2 separate regions of the Homo sapiens genome follow, and region 2 is linked to region 1. The links come from fine-mapping of genetic effects on gene expression. Tissue or cell type: tibial artery. Region 1 holds a variant in brackets; the other region holds the start of a gene. All regions are shown on one strand. Distances are from middle to middle. Region 1 overlaps ZNF268 (zinc finger protein 268). Region 2 holds the start of ZNF268 (zinc finger protein 268).

The links.
Region 2: it holds the start of ZNF268, and the variant in region 1 is fine-mapped to the expression of ZNF268 in tibial artery (GTEx, PIP above 0.99).

Annotation. Positions count from the first base shown.
Region 1 is chr12:133,207,620-133,210,540 of GRCh38, forward strand. ZNF268 (zinc finger protein 268) reads left to right here. Exons shown (of 6, transcript NM_003415.3): 6 at 1-2,921. Among named protein-coding and RNA genes, the nearest start is that of ANHX, 27 kb to the right of the region's middle. The variant G/C (reference allele first, on the strand shown) is at 1,270.
Region 2 is chr12:133,179,714-133,182,634 of GRCh38, forward strand. ZNF268 (zinc finger protein 268) reads left to right here and starts at 1,782. Exons shown (of 6, transcript NM_003415.3): 1 at 1,782-1,973; 2 at 2,233-2,317. The coding sequence starts at 2,285. RefSeq lists enhancers at 1,500-2,024, 1,620-1,929, 1,970-2,169.

The DNA.
Region 1 (2,921 bases):
CAACATGGTGAAACCCCTCTCTACTAAAAATACAAAAAAATAGCAGGGCATGGTAACTGACACCTATAATCCCAGCTACTTGGGAGGCTGGGACGGGAGAATCACTTGAATCTAGGAGGCGGAAGTTGCAGTGAGCTGAGATCGTACCACTGTACTCCACCCTGGGTGACAGAACTAGACCCTGTCTCAAAAAACAGAAGAGTATGTTTGGAAGATTTAATATTAGAAAATATTTTAATTAACTACCAGATAAAACTCATAAGGATTATCTCAGTATATGCTGATAAATCACTTGATGGAATTTAACACCCATAGATGACACTAAAATACTATTAAGTTGGGAATTAAAATTAACTCCTGTAACTTGGTAGGGAATATATGTTCTGAAAACACAAATGTCATACTTAATGATAAAATAGTAGAAAGATTCCTTTAAAGTAAAATTAGCCAGGTGCAGTGGCTCATCCATGTAATACCAGCACTTGGGAAGGCTGAGGCTGGAGGATTGCTGGAACCCAGGAGTTCGAGACAAGCCTGACCAATATAGGGAGACCCTGTCTGTACAAAAACTTTTTAAAAAGATTAGCCAGGTGTGGTCAGGCGCCGTGGCTCATGCCTGTAATCCCAGCACTTTGGGAGGCCGAGGTGGGCAGATCACTTGAGGTCAGGATTTCAAGACCAGTGTGGCTAACATGGTGAAACCCCGTCTCTACTAAAAATACAAAAGTCAGCCAGGTGTGGTGGCACGTGCCTGTAATCCCATCTACTCGGGAGGCTGAGGCAGAAGAATTGCTTGAACCTAGGAGGTGGCAGTTGCAGTGAGCCAAGATTGCACCACTGCACTCCAGGCTGGGCGACAGAACAAGCCTCCATCTCAAAAAAAAGATCAGCCAGGTGTAGTGGCAAGTGCCGGTAGTCCCACCTACTGAGGAGGCTGAGGCAGGAGGTTAGCTTGAGTCCAGTAGTTCAAGGCTACAGTGAGCTATGATCATGCCCCTGCACTCCATCCTGGGCAACAAAGTGAGACCCTGTCTGTAAAAAACAAAGCAAAATTACAAGAATGCGCATCACTTTTATGAAATGAGTAACATCTAGCCAAGGTGTGAAAACAAGGAATGTGAGGAATTAGGGATGGGTGCAGAAACAACTGCCATGAATTGGAGATGTGATCGTGTAATTAGGAAACCCAAAATAAACCACAAACAAATGTTTGGAACTGCCAGTAGAGTAGCAAGTATGCAGTTGTCAGTATTCATGGAGGACCCCCCC[G/C]CAACCACAGATACTCCCTGTGGATGCTCAAGCTCCTTATATGGCATAGTATTTGCATTTTTTTTTTTTTTTTTGAGATGGAGTCTCGCTGTATTGCCAGGCTGGAGTGCAGTGGTGTGTTCTTGGCTCACTGCAACCTCTGCCTCCTGGGTTCAAGCAATTCTCCTGCCTCAGCCTCCCTAGTAGCTGGAATTACAGGCACACGCCACCACGCCCAGCTAATTTTTGTGTTTTTAGTAGAGATGGGGTTTCACCATGTTGGCCAGGCTGGTCTTGAACTCCTGACCTCGTGATCCACCCTCAGCCTCCCAAAGTGCTGGGATTACAGGTGTGAGCCACTGGTCTGTATTGATTTTTCTTAATTCTTTGCTAAAGGGCCAGGTAGAGTTATTTATTTCTTGTAGAGATGGGGTTTTACCATGTTTTCCAGTCTGGTTTCAAACTCCTGGGCTCAAGCAGTCCACCTGCCTTGGCCTCCCAAAGTGCTAGGATTACAGGTGTGAGCCAAGCACCCAGCCATAAATCTTAAATAAATTCTGATTTTGGTATAAATGATATATTTAAATTTAAATGAAGTTGCAAGTTTTAACATGTCTACTCTTTAATTTTCAACATTGTTTCAACTACTTGTTAGAAACACAGGCCATTAAAACATTAATAAAAAGGCTGGGCATGGTGGCTCATGCCTGTAATCTCAGCATTTTGTGAGGCTGAGGCAGGTGGATGACTTGAGGTCAGGAGTTCGAGACCAGCCTGGTGAAACCCCGTCTCTACTAAAAATACAAAAATTGGCCAGCTGTGGTGGCATGCATCTATAATCCAAGCTACTCAGGAGAATTGCTTGAACTGGAGAGGCGGAGGTTGCAGTGAGCTGAGATTGTGCCATTGCACTCCAGCCCGGGCAGCAGAGTGAGACTCCTTCAAAAAAAATTAATAAAAGCAAGCACATAGGGTGCACATTTGCCCTTCCCTCTTGGGATCCAGGGTGATCCCACAGGTGCTGTTCATCCCCAACTTTGACCTGGACTGTTGCAGTGTTTTGTCGCAGTGTTTCTCCCTTTTTTTGTACTGGGATTTCTCCCCAGAAACAAACCCATATGTATAAAAAGTAGTTGGGCTTGCTATAAAGATGACTAGTGGAAACCTCAATAGAGGTACGATTTCCTAAAATAAATCTTGTTCAGATATTACAGGGCAAAGTGAAACAGCAAAGCTCCCTCCTCAGCACTCAGGGTGCAGGCCTCACTTTTCCTCATCTTTTCCTCCTGTGGCCTCCATGTATCCCAAAGGTGAGATGACATCGCCCCAGATTGGTCCGGAAAGTGCACTGGTCGTCACTGTGGGTGTACCCTACAGGAGTCTTCAGATATGGAAGCTCTGGATCTCACTGTGATGTATCCCCCTAGGGGGTCCCCAGGTTGTGAGGAAAAGGAAGCTTTAGTCCTCACTGTGGTTGCATCCCCCACCACGGGTCAGTCCTGAGGAGGATACTCTGGTCATCACTGTGATCTACCTCCCAGGGGTCCCCAGGTTGGTCCTGAGGAGAAGGAAGCTCAGAACCTCACTGTGGATTTGCCCCACTAGGGTCCCTAGGTCAGTCCTGAAGAGAAACAAGCTCCAGTCTTCACTGTGGTTGTGCCCCACAGTGGTCC
Region 2 (2,921 bases), 28 kb before region 1:
GCTCATGCCTGTAATCCCAGCACTTTGGTAAACTGAGGTGACCGGATCACCTAAGGTCGGGAGTTTGCGACCAGCCTGACCAACATGGAGAAACCTGTCTCCACTAAAAATACAAAATTAGCCGGGTGTGGTGGTGCATGCCTGTAATCCCAGCTACTCAGGAGGCTGAGGCAGGAGAATTGCTTGAACCTGGGCGGAGGTTGCGGTGAGCCGAGATCGGGCCACTGCACTCTAGCCTGGGTAACAAGAGCAAAACTCCGTCTCAAAAAATAAAATAAAATAATAAAAATAAAAAGACAAAGAAGATGTTGGTGAGGATGTGGAGAAAAGGAAACTCCTATACACTGTTGGTGAGAAAGTGAAATTAGTATAACCTATGGAAAACAGTGTGGAGAATTCTCAAAGAACTAAAAATAGAATTACCATTTGATAAAGCAATCCTGTTACTGAGTATCTACCCAAAGGAAATCATTATATATATAAAAAAAATACCTGCACTCATATGTTTATCACAGCACTATTCACAATATCACAGGTATGGAATTAACCTAAATGTCCATGAATGGATGAATAAAGAAAATGTGTTATATATACACAATGGAATACTATTCAGCCATAAGAAAGAATGAAATTGTCTTTTGCAGCATCATGGATGGAACTAGTGGCCACTATCTTCAGTGAAACAACTCAGGCACAGAAAGAAAAACACATGTTTTCACTTTAAGTATGAGCTAAAGGATATGTACACATGGATGTAGAGTGTGGGATGATAGACAATGAAGACTCAAAAGGTGTGGGGGGGTTTCAGGGATAATCATAAATTACCTGACTGGTACAATGCATATAACGTACTATAGGGCGTGGATACCTTAAAAGCCTTGACATCACCACTACACAACTGATGCATGTAACAAAATTACACTTGTACCTCATAAATTTATAAAAGTTTTTAAAAGCCAAAAACAAAAGAATTCTAGAAAACTTGTATCTGCCTCTGTGAATGTCACCTCTTCCCAATACTTAAGATCAATAATGATTAGTGGATATTTTCCGTTGGTGCAAAAGTAAGTAATTGCGGCTTTTGCCATTAAAGTAAACCAATATTTTCCAACTGGCCAATACATGATGTTACGAAATCATGCGTGATAAAAGAATCCATTCAAAGTGCAGTGTAGACCAACGGATTTTATGTAATAGAGTAGAAAAAGTTCATCTACGTGGTTTCAGATTGTACACTAACAAAACTATCCCTTGTTCGACTTGTATCTTTATATACTTTAACAAAAACAACATACGCAACAGATTAAACATAGAAGCAGATATGAGAATCCAGCTTTCTAGTAAGTCAGAAAAGACTTAAAAAGCGAAGCCACTCCTTACTAAATTTTTTCTTTTGTAAAATATATGTAATTTTCATTAAAATATTATTTATGTTAACATGTAATGGGAATTTTACGAATCTGTTATTAAAGTGTAAAGCAAAATAAGACTTTTACCATTTCAGTAAAGCAGGGACTAGAACACTTGTAACCTAATTTACATCCCTCCAACCGTTGAGCCATTGGTGTCAAGTATTTTAATTCTCTTTAAAATTTAAAACCTGCAAGCGCGGGAGCTCAGGGACCTGGCCAGGAAGGCCTGAGCTTCCGGGTCATCTTAGCACGCCCCCTCCCGGTGGCCCTTGGCCGGAGCCCTCCGGCGCGGGAGTAACTCCTCGCAGAGGCCTCTGGGAGTTGTAGTTTTTTTGCCTTTGCCTCTCCATGACGCAATTCCTGTGCGACATACGTAGCGGCCGCCATTGTTCCGCGCCGATGGCGAGATCCTTGTTCCTCAGATAGCGTTCATCGCCCGTCGTGGTCAACGGGCCAGCCGAGTCTGGAGTGGTTGCGAACCCTTCTGGCTGCAGATCTGGAGGTGGAGGCAGTACCCTGGACTCTATTCTGCTGCCCCTTCAGGGTTTGGAGGAGCCGGAGGTGCGGAATTCCTCCGGTTTCAAGGCGGCGGGACGGGACAGAACTAATCTGCCTTAGCTCTCTCCTGCTGCTGACCCGGGGCGGTTGCCTGACCCTAACCTGTGTGTTGGTGAGGGTGTGGAGATGGTGAATCCCGTGCTGTGGGAGGGAAGGAGCCTCAGCTCCGAGAATGGCAGGCAGCCCTGGTGCCTCGGACCCTCCCCCTCTGGGTTTGGGGACTGCTGGGTGACCTCTTTCTTCACTGTGCTCTCTCTTCTAGCATCCCTCGCGTCCTGTCACTTCCAGCGAGGCACACAAAACTGACCGTAGGGATGGCCACCAGGGTCCGGACAGCTTCTATTTGGGTGAGTAGGGGTTTTCTTTCATTCTTGAAAAGCTCTCCCTGAATGCCAACGTGTGCGCACTCCATCTACTCCAGTCTGAATTTGCCAGGAGCTTTCTCACCCCACCGCTCTTTTAGGCAACTGGATCGTCATTTATAGCATGTTAGACTTTCCAGAAATGCTTCTTGTCATCCGACTTCCTTTTTTCCTCCTTTCATCAATCTCTTTTCTAACAACTTTGTACGCTGAACTTTGGAGTTAAACAAGGGATACTCACACATCTTTCAGTTTTTTCAGCCTTTATTTACTGAGGGCCTTCTGTATCTGGGATCTTTAAACCTTATTTTGGAAATTACAAACTTTTTTATTCACTTGTTCAACATTTTTTTTTATTGTATTTTGTTTGCTGGACCCTGGGGCAGGTGCTAAAAATGCAAAGATGGGTTGCTTATCATCCCTGTCTTGAAGAACAGTGGTCTAGGAATGGTGGATAAGAAAGACAATGACAAGTTAATGAGTGCTCTGGGAGCAGGCTGTGGAAATACACGGAGACATGCAGGAATGGGTCAGTTTTGGAAGTAAGGACACCCCCTAACCCCTTACTCCCAAATGCTTCAATGATTAA